Homo sapiens: one gene and its partner. The protein of the gene in region 2 interacts with the protein of the main gene of each other region in a pairwise test. Each region holds a gene or a part of one and is shown on either strand. Other genes may lie near its edges. The genes, in order: MMACHC and MTR.

Region 1 (7,724 bases), about 190 Mb from region 2:
GGGGGCCCTTCCAACACAGAACTGTCCTCCTTCCTCAGGCTAGGACTCTGGTCTCCTCCCTCTTTTTTTTTTTTTTTTTTTTTTTTTTTTTGAGATGGAGTCTCACTCTGTCACCCAAGCTGGAGTGCAACGGCATGATCTCAGTTTACTGCAACCTCCACCTCCTGGGTTCAAGTGATTCTCCCACCTCAGCCTCTCGAGTAGCTGGGATTACAGGCACCCGCCATCATGCCCGGCTAATTTTTGTAGAGATGGGGTTTCACCATGTTAGCCAGGCTGGTCTTGAACTCCTGACCTCAGGTGATCCGCCCACCTCGGCCTCCCAAAGTGCTGGGATTATAGGCGTGAGCCACCGCGCCCTGCCAATCTCTCCTCCCTCTGTAACATCCAAACATACAAAGGTACCTCACTGACTCTCTATCAGGTAAAGAATGCCTTTATGGGATACAACCCAGATACTCATACTACCCCAAAAGCCCAAGTCAAATCTAGGATAGCTGAACTTTGGTCCCCAGTGCCCGACCTGTGAGACAATTTCCCTCCAATGGCACAGCACCCATACCCCCTGACCTAAGGAGGTTGTGCTCCCTCCAGGCATCTTGGTCCTCTGTCCTGGTAGCCTCCAGGGTATGACCCTTGCCTTCCTGGCCACTTTGCAACTGCTCTAACATCTGCCAGATCATGGGCTCAGGTGGAACCAAACCTCTCCCTCTCTCCCTCCCCATGACTGTCCTCTTCAGCACACTTGGAACCCTCATGTCGGCAAGGATAGTTTCTCATGGCCGGGAGCAGAAAGGTTAGAAAGAAGAGCTCTGGAGAGAGAGAGAGTCAGCACAGGGAAGAGAGGAATGAAGACAGGGGCAGGAGAGGGTATCCTGGCCTCCCTGCAGAACAGGATAGACAGAGAAAGGAAAGGTCCTCCATAGAGAAATATGCAGAGACAAGTCTGAACCTAGTCCTACCTTCCAACTGCCAACCTGAGCCTGTCGTCCCTCAGCCAGCTGTTTCAGCAGCAGCTCCTGGTGCTGGCCTGCAGATGAGAGAGAATGTAAGGGGGCTGTTCCCCAACTTCTTTCCTTCTCCCTCCCTGCCTGTGACCAGCCTGCTGCCAAAAACTGAGACAGAAACATTCTGGCTCAGCCATTGGGACGCTTCCAAGCTGACTGAAGAGATTAAACTCACACCATGAGAGACAAAGAGTGCAACAAAATACTTGGCCACACTTCTCAGTAGCTCAGGCAGTTGGAGCCATGGCCACTTAATGGGAGAGCAAGAAGACTTTCCAGGCCAGGCGCAGTGGCTCACACCTGTAATCCCAGCACTTTGGGAGGCCAAGGCAGGCGGATCATCTGAGGTCAGGAGTTCGAGACCAGCTCGGCCAACATGGTGAAACCCCATTTCTACTAAAAATACTAAAAATATGAAAAAAAGTGGCTGGGCATGGTGGCGGGCACCTGTAATCCCAGCTACTCAGGAGGCTGAGGCAGGAGAATCGCTTGGACTCGGGAGGCAGAGGTTGCAGTGAGCCAAGATTGCGCCATTGCAACACAGCCTTGGCAACAGGCAACAGAGCGAGGCTGGGCAACAGAGCAAGACTCCATCTCAAAAAGAATAAAAATAAATAAAAATAAATAAAAGAAGAAGATGACTTTCCAGAAAAGGGGACAAGGAAACGCATATTCGCCCCCAACCACCTTTTACTTACTCAACTGGTACTGCAGCAACTTCAATTCCTTCTGCATAATCTCTGACTCCTCCCACAGCACTGCAGGAGTGACAGCAGTGCTATTCTAAAGTCAATCAACAAATCCAGAGTAAGAAGGCAAGTAGAGTATCTAGGGTCTTGTGAAACTCTTAGAGAGGATGATCCCCAACTTGTCCCACTACAAATGCCAAAAGTTCAAAGGCCTCAAGAAGGCAAGGCCGCACTCAGTGCTCAATGGCGCCCAGGCTGGAGTGCAGTGGCGTGATCTCGGCTCGCTACAACCTCCACCTCCCAGCCGCCTGCCTTGGCCTCCCAAAGTGCCGAGACTGCAGCCTCTGCCCGGCCGCCACCCCGTCTGGGAAGTGAGGAGCGTCTCCGCCCGGCAGCCACCCCGTCCGGGAGGGAGGTGGAGGGGGTCAGCCCCCCGCCAGGCCAGCCGCCCCGTCTGGGAGGGAGGTGGGGGTGTCAGCCCCCCGCCCGGCCAGCCACCCCATCCGGGAGGTGAGGGGTGCCTCTGCCCGGCCACCCCTACTGGGAAGTGAGGAGCCCCTCTGCCCGGCCACCACCCCGTCTGGGAGGTGTGCCCAACAGCTCATTGAGAACGGGCCAGGATGACAATGGCGGCTTTGTGGAATAGAAAGGGGGGAAAGGTGGGGAAAAGATTGAGAAATCGGATGGTTGCCGTGTCTGTGTAGAAAGAAGTAGACATGGGAGACTTTTCATTTTGTTCTGTACTAAGAAAAATTCTTCTGCCTTGGGATCCTGTTGATCTGTGACCTTACCCCCAACCCTGTGCTCTCTGAAACATGTGCTGTGTCCACTCAGAGTTAAATGGATTAAGGGCGGTGCAAGATGTGCTTTGTTAAACAGATGCTTGAAGGCAGTATGCTCATTAAGAGTCATCACCACTCCCTAATCTCAAGTACCCAGGGACACAAACACTGCCGAAGGCCGCAGGGTCCTCTGCCTAGGAAAACCAGAGACCTTTGTTCACTTGTTTATCTGCTGACCTTCCCTCCACTATTGTCCTATGACCCTGCCAAATCCCCCTCTGTGAGAAACACCCAAGAATGATCAATAAAAGAAAAACAAACCCAAAAAAAAAAAAAAAAAAAAAGAAGGCAAGGTCTTGACTATCCCTTACTCAGTCTGCAGCTCCTGAGGAAGGCCATTGGTAGTACTGCATTCTCCTGGTCCTGTTTGCATCTGGGCTTGGGCTTGGGCTTGGGTTTGCTCCCACACCTGGCTCTGAAGGCCCTGCAGTTCCTTTCTCAGCTCCTCCAGGCATTGCTCCAGGAGAAAAGCACTCCCCTTTGGGGCCCCCTGCAGCAACCTTAGTGATGCTGTAGTGGGACAAGTTAGGGATCATCCTCTCTAAGAGTTTCACAAGACCCTAGATACTCTACTTGCAAAACAAGACACATGTGCACACACAACAGGTGTGTGGCAAAATTGTGTGCATACATATGAAGCTGTGTATATGAAGAAAATAACTGGCCAGATACCTTCCAGGACACTGATCTGGTACTTCTGCTGCTCTCGCTCTTCTAGCAGGCCCTGCACTGCCTGCCTTAGTGCCTGTCACCTCCCCAGGCAGAAAAAAGCACATGAACTACTGTATAACAGCTTTTCCCGACCCCTAGTATCCTCATCTTACACAAACATCACATATACACACCAAGGATTCCAAGCCTCACCTGAGCCTGACATTGAAATTAGGATCAGAGAATAGCAACCTCACCCCAGAGAGAGGATGGGCTCTAGGACTCAGGGCAGCTCAGCCTTTGTGGAACTATGGGAGTCTCTAAAGCCCAAGGCTGTTGAGCTTGGACTCCTGACTGCAGAGGCAAGTGATGAGAGGAAATCCAGGTCCCAGCCAGGTCCCCGGCTGAGGAAATAAGGAAGGGTTAAGTGCAGGGTCTGTGTGGGGAAACAGAGTTCAGGAAAGGACAGAGTTGGAATTTGGAAGGAATAATGGATGATACGGGCACTGGAGGAAGGCACAGAAAGAGAAAGGGCTTGGAAGTAGAAAGAGACATTACTTACCTGCGGTGGAGACCCCAAGAAGATACAGCCACTGCTACAGAAGAAACAGATGCACAGGCCAATGAGCTCTGTGGAGACCCCAAGAGGATACAGCCACTGCTACAAAAGAAACAGATGCACAGGCCAATGAACTCTGAGAGTCCCTTAGCCTCCCCACGCAAACTGGGGACCTCCACCAACCCCTCACCTTATTCCGGACCACATTTCCATCAGTAGCGTTGAGAAGCACATCCAGCTGCTCAAACCAGCTGAGGCTCGTATTCATATCCTGTGGCAGGGGAGCGGCAGGGGTCTGGCTCCCTGGTGTCTTGTGCTTGCTCTCCTAGCGGGGGATACCCAAGGTATCCCCAGGAAAGGCCACCACGTTAGATGGAAAGAGGGAAGTGGGGATGCAACACTGGGGTAGGTGGATGCACTATCAGACCAAAACTGCGATCCTGTGACTAGGGAAAGGAAGGACGCTCTTGGGGAACTGGGGGAAAAGCGGGATACCGTGATGATACGCAGATATCAGGTGGGGATTGAAGGTGCCAGAACCTGGTTGAGACCTCCCCAGAAGTAGTACACTGGCGCCACCACGCCAAACCTGTGCCAGTGACAACTGCCGCCGCCGGGTTCAAAACTTCGGGTTGGTTTTGAAAGTCCGACTTTGGACTGGCTGCCGCAGCGCCACCTGGGAAACTGAGGTCGCCTCTTGCGAACACAACCGGCGATGGAGGCGGTGGAACTACCTTTCTCTAGAAGAGACACGTACATGCACACCCCCACCGTGTAGCTTGCCGGGAAACTGAGTCTTCCTGATTTCGTGTGGCTGTCTCCAAGGAGGAAACGAACTACGCATCCCAAGATGCATCGCGCATAGGCAATATGGTCCCGCTACTGGACCCATTTCCTACCTGGGAAATGGAGTCGAAGCTGACTCAAAACGTAACGGCCCAATTGTCCTTGAGACTTCATTCCCCAGCAAGCTCAGCGTGTAACGTGCGCTATGGAGCCGAAAGTCGCAGAGCTGAAGCAGAAGATCGAGGACACGCTATGTCCTTTTGGCTTCGAGGTTTACCCCTTCCAGGTTAGTTTATCCCTCCTGCTGTTCTAGGGCGAAATATATGATTGGCTTCGTTGCAACTGGCGTGAGGCCTCGGGAGCCTCTGATCCTCCTGGGTTCCTGCAGCCCAGTGTCCATGTGACAACAGGGACAGAGTTTCAGTGGGGGCTTGGGTTAAAAAGGTAGTGGTCGAGGCCGGGCATGGTGGCTCACGCCTGTAATCCCAGCACTTTGGGAGGCCGAGGCGGGCGGATCACCTGAGGTGAGGAGTTCGAGACCAGCCTGGCCAACATGGTGAAACCCCATCTCTACTAAAAATATAAAATTAGCCGGGCGTGGTGGTGCATGCCTGTAATCCCAGCTACTCGGGAGGCTGAGGCAGGACAATTGCTTGAACCCATGAGACGGAGGTTGCAGTGAGCCGAGATTGCGCCATTGCAGTCCAGCCTGAGCAACAAAGAGCGAAACTCCGTGTCAAAAAAAAAAAAAAAAAAAAAAGTTGTCGCATGTTTAACCTTTTGCCACCATATAATGCCGGATTCGTTAACGGGAGACACCATATGACCTGTAGCGTGTGTGGCTCAGATTGTCACCTATATAATTTACAAGAAGAAAGGGACCTGTGAGGCAAAGTCACCTTGGAACTTCCTAAAGGATTTAGGAGAGGGCAAAGCCTAGAAGGTTTGCATAGCTATCATTTAGGTCAGCTGAGGAAGGAAGGGCATTCCTGGTGATGAACAGGCAAACAATTGGCTGGTTTGTTCCCTCTACCAACAGAAGGATAATTCATGATATTTCCAGTCATCAGTGCTGGGCTGGGTAATGAAACTTTGTACACTTGCCTGGCACAGCAGTCTCAGCACCGCACCCCGACCCCCATTTACACGGTTACATTTCCCCACATCAGTGCCCTGTGCACTGAGCAGTTAAGTTACAAAGCTAAATCAGCTCAGCTTGAGCCCTTTGCCTGATGCTTAAGAGACTACCCACTTCCCATTCCTTCTGCTGAGTGGCTCACAGCAGTCCTGGGAGAGGATATAGAGGGAGAAGTAGGTTGGGTCTAGCTTGAGACTGGTCTTGCCAGAAAAAATGGAATTGAGCTATATATGAAAAGATAGATTGGAAGGAAGGAGGGTTATGTACATCCCAAATATCAGAAAAAGCTTGAGTAAAGGTGTGGAGATAGTGGTGTGGTGTTACCAAGTAAAAGGGCTTGATGCCTGATGTGCTGGAAGCTAATATTATGACACTGGGTTTTTGAGAAAACAAAAGCTATTTGTTGCAGATCGACCTTTAACTCTTTGAGACACCGTTTCAGTGGATGGCAGGTGTGTGGGAGAGTGAGAATGCCTATCTGGCAAGTTGAGTAGACCTGGGTATTAGGAGCTTTTGTACTGAACAAAGCCAACTGCAGCCCTGCCAGTCACCCTAGGCTCCTACCTCTCACCTCCCTACCCCCACATCCAATCAGCCACCAAGACCTATAAGACTGTCTACTGAATCTCCCAAATCCATTCCCTTGTATTCCACCCATCTATGCTGTGGTCCAGGCCACCATTTCTCACTTGGATTACTGTAATAACCTCCTTGCTGTAATTTTACCTCCAGTCCCTCCTCCACACTGCAGCCAGTGTGATCTAAAAATGATCATGCTAGTTTACTCCTTAAATCTTCAGTGGCTCTTCACTGTCACCAAATTAAATCCATATTCCTTAAATTGGTATTCAAAGCCAATCAAAATCTCACTCCTATTGATCTCTCCAGCCTTCTCTCCCTCTGATTCCCTCTACAGACCCTTCACTTCCACCAAACTAGACAATTCTCAAATATACCCAGGAATTTTCTGCCAGTGTGTTTGCTTATGCTGTGACTTGTTTATTTTATTCTTTATTTATTTAGAGACAAAGTCTCACTCTGTCCTCCCGGCCGGAGTGCAGTGGTGCAATCATAGCTCACTGCAGCCTCAAACTCCTGGGCTCAAGTGATCCTCCCACTTTAGTCTCCCAAGTAGCTGACTCCAGGCATGCACCAACACTCAGGGTCTCACTTTGTTGCCCTGGCTGGTCTTGAACTCCTGGCCTCAAGTGATCCTCCTGCTTCGGCCAGCCACCCAAAGCACTGGGATTACAGGCATGAGTCACCGCACTCAGTCTGTGACCTCTTTTTAAAATACACACCAGTGAGTTTATGTGTTTTTTGGTGAAATATAAATAATAAATAAATGCACACCAGATTCTCCTCCCTACATCAACCTGACAGTTGACCAGTTGACTTTCTAGCCTTCAAGACTTAGCATCCAAGGAAGCCTTTTCTTTTCTTTTTTTTTTTTTTTGAGATGGAGTTTCGCTCTTGTTGCCCAGGCTGGAGTGCAATGGTGCGATCTCAGCTCACCACAACCTCTGCCTCCCGGGTTCAAGTGATTCTCCTGCCTCAGCCTCCAGAGTAGGTAGGATTACAGGCATGTGCCAACATACCCGGCTAATTTTGTATTTTTTTTAGTAGAGACAGTTTCTCCATGTTGGTCAGGCTGGTCTTGAACTCCCGACCTCAGGTGATCTGCCTGCGTTGGCCTCCCAAAGTGCTGGAATTACAGGCATGAGCCACCATGCCCGGCCACAAGGAAGCCTTTTCTAATTTCAGAGGACCCTTATCTGACCCTGTCATTGCACTAGCTATAGTACAGTCATTTCTATTGTTCTTAGTGGTTCTGCCTATTAGAACTTTCTGCAGCCAGGCGTGGTGGTTCTCACCTATATCCCAGCACTTTGGGAGGCCAAGGTGGGTAAATTACTGGAGGTCAGGGGTTCAAGACCAGCCTGGCTAACATGGTGAAATCCCGTCTCTACTAAAAATACAAAATTAGGTGGGCGTGGTGGTGTGCACCTGTAATCCCGGCTACTCGGGAGGCTGAAGCAGGAGAATCGCTTG
Region 2 (7,272 bases):
GACTTGTTGCCAAGCTAATCTTTTTAAAAGTACAATAACATACACTTGTAAAAATTTGAAACAGTGCAGAAAGAACGAGAAATAGCCAAACCATGAGTTCCCTCACCTCTGATCCCCTAATCCCATTCCGTGGAGGTAACCACTTAAAAATTTCTGTGTATCCTCTTAGACTTTTTATTTTTTATTTTTTAAGAGATGAGGTCTCAGCACAGGCTGGAGTGCAGCTGTGCAATCATAGCTCACTGCAGCCTCAAACTCCTGGCCTCAACCGATCCTCCCACCTCAGCCTCCTGAATAGCTGGGTTTACAGGCATGTGACACTGTGCCCAGCTCTTCTTGACGTTTTAATGCATATACTGGTGTATATTTCCTTATACACACACCGAATCAGAATATACTTTCAGTTCTACAATTTGACAATACACATAGCTGATTTATAGCAAGTATGCCATGAACTGAGGGTTTTGTTTTGTTTTGTTTTTGCAGGGCTGCCAATATGCTGTCTTCACGGGACGGTAAAGAAAGTATCACTTGGGCCGCATCTAATATGAAATACTGAAGGTGGGTGTAGAGAGGGTGCTAGGGCTTTGATACAGCGCTTTCTTTCTGAGAGAGAGAAAACCATCATGCTCCCCCCGCCCCGAACTCATTTAACAAGGCTTGATGGAGTGAACAATTTCATGGCAGGCACTGAGCTAGGCTCTGGGTATCCTGAGCTCAGGAAGAGGCAGGGCCCCTGCCCTCATGAGGCTTTACAGTCTGCTCTCCATCCAACTCCTGTCCCTAGAGGATCTGCTCAATTCAAGACAACCTTTACTGAGCACCTATCATAAAGCAAGCACTATTTTAGACGCCATATAAAGATGAGTAAGGTTCCAAACCTGCCCTTAGGGAATGTTAAGTCTAACAGAGAACTAGATGAAGTTTCAGCAAGGGCTGTATGAAATGTGCATGGCGGTGTTACAGAGGCAAGAAGAGGGGTCACTTCACTTAGCTTTGGGGTGGTGGGAGGGAGGGGTTGGGAAGCTTTCCTGACTTGGGTGGAACCGGGGTGGGGTTATTCCAGACAGAGGGGCCAATGTGAGCAGGTACCTCCTTCAGGGTACAGCAGCAGTCTAGGGCTTCCAAGACATGAGGCAGGGTCAGACATGGAAGGCTTTGCATGCCTCTAAGGGGCTGGGATATATCCTAGGTCACGGGGAGATGGTTATTCAGGCAGCAGGAGGATTGAGGCGGGGGTGTAAAGAATCAGAGAGCCCACTCTTCCAGCTCTAGGAGGTGGGAACCAACCCGGCAGCCTGTGTTGCAGATGAATCCAGAGGAGAAATGATGAGAACCTTAACCAGGGCAGGCGTAGAGATGAACTTAAGACCTATCTAGCGCGTAAAATCGCCAGGGCTTGAGAACCAACTGGATGTGAAGGTTGAGAAAAAGAAAAGTGTTATGGTCTGATGTATCCCCCAAATCATGTTGAAATGGAATCCCCAGAATGATGGTGTTTGGAGATGGCATCTTTGGGAGGTAATTAGGTCATGAAGGTGGAGCCCTCATGAATGGGATTAGTGCCTTTTTAAGAGGAGGCCAGAGAGCAAGCTTACCCTCCACCCACTGTGAGAACATGAGAAGCTGGCCGCTGCATCCCAGAAGAGGGCCCTCACCAGAACTCGGCCATGATGGCACCATGATCTTGGACTTCCAGACTCCTGAACTGTAAGAAATAAACATCTGTTCTCTATAAGCTAACCAGTTTGTGGTATTTTGTTACAGGAGCAGGAGCTAAGACTGGAGGGGTCAGGGGCAACTCCCAGGTTGATGGTGTTACTGACTGGCAGAAGAAATTCAGTCTCCCTGGAAGTTGGGTTAAAATAATTGTTTTTAAAGACTTCTGCACTATCTGCAACCCTCTGTACTTGTGCTTTACCCTCAGCATATAATCCTTTTTCTGTCTGAAACACTCTCAATCCTACCTTTCCCTCCAATCTTCTTTAAATGAGTCAACAAGTCTTCCACACCTCCCATTGTCTTCAACCTAGCAAAGCCAGCTGTGTGCCAACAGTCCCCACAATCCCCTGACGCTGCTCTTGAGGGGCTCACTGTGAGAAGGGCCCTCAGCAATCCCATTCCCAGGCCTCTTTGCAGCATTGGGTTCTGCTGGCATGCTTCGAAACGCTCTTCATTGCTTTCTCGGCATTGCACTCTCCCTCCTGGCTTCCTCCAACCCACAGCTGCTCCCCTGCTGGCTCCCCCTCCTCCTCCTCCAGATTCTCTTCTCCTCATATGCTCCATAGATGATCCCATCGCACTGCAGCCTGACCTCCATCTCCACGTTCAAGTCTCTCAATTCTAACTCCAGACATTCTTTTTAAATTCCAAAGTCTAGTATCCAACTGCCTATATTCAGTCTAGTCACATCGAATCTTTCCAAAACTCATCATTTCTCCCATCCCCTGGCCTCTGTCTTAGCAAATGGTCCAGCCATCCACTCATTCCCCAAAGCCTGGTATCTGGGCACTGCTGGCAGCAGCAAGGATGCACCACTCTCCTGCCCCTCACCTTTCTAGCTGCTGTTTACCCTAAGATGTTCTTCCTTTCCTTAAAAACTGTATTTGACATATACAAACATTACCTACAAAATCACCATACCAGATTTTAGGTTATCATTCCACTTTGCCTTTATTTTTTATAATATATTTAAGTAGAACATATTTAATATGTAAAAAACTGTTATCTATTAGTTATAAAGTATAATGTATTAATAGCATATAGTAAACACTTGTAAGCCTACCAGGAGGAACCAGAACAGCTGCATAACTTGGCATCTACCTATGTGCTCCTGTCCCTTCCACTTCCTCCTTCTGTGGGTAATTACTATGCTCAATTTTGGTTTATCAGTTACCTTCTTTTTTTTTAATAGCATAGTTTTATTGTATACGTATGCTTAGACTACATATTCTTTGGTTTTGCTTGTTTTTGGGCTCAATAAAAATAGTACGCCCCATGTGGTCTCTTCAAACTTGCTTTTTTCCTTAATATTTTCTGAGATTCATTCTTATTGTGAGGTATAGCTGTAGTTCACTCATTTCCACTACTGAATAATATCCCGTAGAATGAATATATATATCTAATTATTCACCTATTTTCCTGTAGACAGACATACATTTCACTTTTTCCAGTTATTAACTATTATAAATATGTAACTATGAACATTCTTACACATTCCTCCTAGTGGCCACATGCAAGAGTTTGCTGGACATACAGGTGGGAGTTGGAAGCAAGATCATAACGTCTGCAAATGTTCAAGTCTGTAAGGGATAATTGTTTTTTAAAGCAGTGGTGCCTGTTTACACATCCACAATGTTGTACAAGTCCCTACAGATCTAACAACTGGTACTGTCAGACCCAACCTTTGCAAATCTTATGGATATAAAATGGAATCTCATTGTGGTCCTAATTCATATTTCCCTGACCAATGCTACAGAACATCTATTTATTTAAAAGCCCTATTTCCTCTTGTGTAGTCTTCACTATTTTTCTATTTTTTTAAATAGGAATTCTCTATATTTGTGATTATGAATCCTTCATCAGTTATTTGTATTATAAATGTCTTCTCAAGTTGTGGATCATCTTCTCACTTCAAGTGTTTGCTTAATATAAGCCTTGAGTTTTAACAGAATTGACTTAACCATCTTGTCCTTTATGATTACTACTTTATGTCTCAAGAGATTCTTTCCTGCCCTAAGGCTTTTTTCATCCAAACACTGACAATTTTTGCTTTTTGTATTAAAGCCCTTAACATATTTGGAACTTATCACCAGGTAAGGTGAGAGAAAGTAAAATTTCTTTTTTTCCCACATGAATAGCCATTGTTCTGGGATTACTTAGGGAGTGGTCCTTCCTGTCCCCACTGACTTGCCATGTCACCAGGTCATTTTGCAAAGGTCAACATATGCACGGGTGAGTTTCTAGGCCCTTATTTTGTTCCCCTGCTCAGAATGCCTACCTCTGCACCATGACACTGTCTTGACAATAAAACTTGGTATCACATAGGGTGCGTGTCCCCAACCTCTCCTTCATATTTAGAAGCATTTGGTAATTTTAAGTCCTTTGCTACTCCATATAAACACCTGCTTGTTTCATTCAATAAAATCTGTTGGAATTTCCATTGAAAATGGTATTAAATCCATAGATCAATTTTAGGAGACCTGATACCTTTATAATCTTGAATATTCCTATTCATGAACAAAGATGGTTCTTCATTTGTTCCTCCCTTGCTTCTTCGTCTTCATCCTTCGAATCAAACCAGGACTCCAATGTTACCTTCTCCTGACTATTGCCACCACCATCTTGAAGTAGGATGAGTGTATATTTTGCATGCAAATTTTTGAAATAACTGCAATCATCCAAGAAAAAGATGACATGGTTGAGTTTGAGGCTTGTTGCTTGAGTGGTGGCACCATTCTTCATTACTGAATATATTGAGAATTGAGGGGAATAAAATGGTAAGAAATGAGTGACTTTATGCTGCCCACTTGTCCAACTCCGCACGGGATATCAGAGCCCAGCTGAGAACCTGCTCAATCCTGGAAACAATTAAAAGATGTTAACCGGCCAGGCTCGGTGGCTCACGCCTGTAATCCCAGCATTTTGGGAGGCTGAGGTGGGCAGATCACGAGGTCGGGAGATCAAGACCATCCTGGCTAACACAGTGAAATCCTGTCTCTACTTTTTTGTATTTTGTAAAAACACAAAAAATTAGCCGGGTGTGGTGGCGGGCACCTGTAGTCCCAGCTACTCTGGAGGCTGAGGCAGGAGAATGGCATGAACCCAGGAGGCGGAGCTTGCTATGAGCCGAGATTGCGCCCCTGCACTCCAGCCTGGGCGACAGAGCCAGACTCTGTCTCAAAAAAAAAAAAACCAAAACAAAACAAAACAAAAAAAATGTTAACCACCCTTAACAGTAACTTTCTCTCCTCATTTCCTTTTTGTTTCCTCAGGGGTACGGAAATATGAAATTATGGGAGGACGAAAATGCCCAGAAAGCATGGCTGCTTGACCACACTGGGGCAAATGGCTTCAGTGTTTCTGACAAGCAAGCAGTGAGCGCATGCCTTTTGCCAAAGGGAGTTCTGCAGCCATTTAGTCCAGCCTTTAGAAAACGAGGTCTTCCGAAGAGAACAGAGCTACACCTTCCCCGTCAGAATCCACTGTTATAACCACTTAGATTAAAATGCCCCATTTCTCACAGTATCATTTTGTCACAGGGTCACACTTCTCTATTCAACTCAGTTTCAGGCTTTTCTTCTAAGAGGAAAAAAAGACGACTAAGTGGCCTCCTAGATTCCACTGTAAAAACAGAAAAAAGCAGGTTGACTTGCTTTGAAATCAAACGACCTCTGTCTTCAGTCTGTCCCCATCTCAGAGGGACCAGGGAAACCACAGGAACCCTGCTCACTGCTCTTCACGCAAGGTCCCAAAAAAACAGCGCCTGTTTTCCAGGCACTGCAGGAAGACCCTGCTCCTCTACAAGGTTCCACTAAATAGTCTTCGAAAACCAGAAGCAGGTAAGTGTCAGCCAGATGCACACAGGTTTTTTGTTGTTGTTATTTTTAAGGCACCCTAGGTTGTATTTCCTTGAGGATCATCAAGAATAAAAAAGGCAAAAAAAAAAAAAAAGTTAGTCTGTATCATATCCCAAAATGGGTCCAAGCCATTTCTCAACCTCAGCCACAGATATGTTCTTCCTCAATGCATAATCCTCAACCTGCAAAAGATGAGAAGCATTTTATTAAACCAACATGATAAGACTTTTGGAATAGAAGTTTCCACAAGATTTGCCAAGAAACATTAAGTACCTTGCATTTCTTGTCTTAATAGCAATCTACAGAGTTAAATGGAGATAGATATTTATCTACCAAGTTGCCTTTTTCTCTGGGCAGAAAAACATGTAGTAAACATCTGATGCTTAGAAGCTGTATGTGTGTGTGTGTGTGTGTGTGTGTGTGTGTGTGCGTGTGTGTGGCTTGCATGTAGAAGTGAGGGCTAGAATAGAGGTATTCTATTGAAATCAAATTAAGACATTAACTGGAGTAAATTTCTTCATCCTTTCCCCTCACTTTATTCTCATTCACATTTAAAATGAGAGAGGTTCTAGAATTTCATTTGAACTAGGCAAGCCACATATAATGCAACAGCTAGCTTACCTGATCCTTGGAAATCTTCCCCACAGCAAAATATTTGGACTTCAAATTGGAGAAGTAGAGGCCTGAGACTGCTGAAGCAGGTGCCATTGCTAATGATTCTGTTAACCTAATGCCTAGAGGGAGCAACACAGGGAAAATGCTTATGGACTCAGTGTCTAGCACAGGGCCTGCAGCTAGCAGGCACTCAATGAACTCTTGTTGAACAAGTGAACCAAAGCGAGCTCATGCCTTCTAGGTAGACACATGACACAGCATGAAAGCTGTGATCAGAGAAGTCTAGCAAATTCCTGCCAGGTGAAGAAACAAATTCGGGACATGCAGATCTCCTCTAACCCAGGGGGACAGGCCTGGGAAAGACTCTACACTCCCACCTCCAGCCATCCCAGATCAGTTACAGGTGCCCTAATTTGCTCCTAAGCCTAGACCTTCTCAGGCAGGAGCTCTACCCCTGGAGATGAGAACAACAACTGAACAGCCTCCACCGGCTCTGTGCGGCCACTGATACTAGGGACGACTGAGAGCTCCAGTGAAGAAGGAACCCACAACATTGTGAGAAAGAAGAGACAGTTTTCCTTGGGATCTGAGAGCTCAAACAGACCCTCAAGGATATCTATTCGAAGCCACTCATTCTATGAACAAGGAAACAGAGCAACATGAAGGGTGAGTGCTTTGCCAGAGGTCGCCCAGCTAGCTTATGGCAGAAACAGGACTCAAACCCAGATCTCATGACTCCTAGAGTTAGTGTTGTTCCTGCTGAAGCAGATTCAGCACAGCTCATGGTTTCTCACTTAAATCTGGATGCCTTTATCAGCTTTGATGGCATGCTTTTTATTAATTCCGCTGAAAACTGTGAGCTTAGCCTGGGCCATCTCAACTACATGAACTCTGCAGTAATGACAGAACCAGGACATTGACATGACAATGTGCAGCCACAGAACCACGAGCCAAGTCAGCTCTGGGCACAGGACGCTGAGGCCGGGTGTCTGGGCCTTTGTCTCAGAAAGGCACATGCCAGCTTGTCATTTTCAGCTTTTAGAATCAATCCACAGGCAAAACATAACAGAGAATTATG

Evidence for each region.
Region 1: the proteins of MTR (region 2) and MMACHC interact in binary tests that used the Homo sapiens proteins (3 or more experiments, as listed by UniProt).

Annotation. Positions count from the first base shown.
Region 1 is NC_000001.11:45,495,594-45,503,317, forward strand, and holds the start of MMACHC (cyanocobalamin reductase / alkylcobalamin dealkylase), read left to right. Parts: upstream 1-4,706; 5' UTR 4,707-4,739; coding exon 4,740-4,820; intron 4,821-7,724. Other genes in the region: transmembrane protein CCDC163, read right to left, coding at 1,706-1,790, 3,752-3,850, 3,939-4,016. UniProt on the Homo sapiens protein: Cobalamin (vitamin B12) cytosolic chaperone that catalyzes the reductive decyanation of cyanocob(III)alamin (cyanocobalamin, CNCbl) to yield cob(II)alamin and cyanide, using FAD or FMN as cofactors and NADPH as cosubstrate.
Region 2 is NC_000001.11:236,896,047-236,903,318, reverse strand, and holds part of MTR (methionine synthase), read right to left. Parts: intron 6,314-7,272; coding exon 6,201-6,313; intron 5,762-6,200; coding exon 5,675-5,761; 3' UTR 1-5,674. UniProt on the Homo sapiens protein: Catalyzes the transfer of a methyl group from methylcob(III)alamin (MeCbl) to homocysteine, yielding enzyme-bound cob(I)alamin and methionine in the cytosol. MeCbl is an active form of cobalamin (vitamin B12) used as a cofactor for methionine biosynthesis.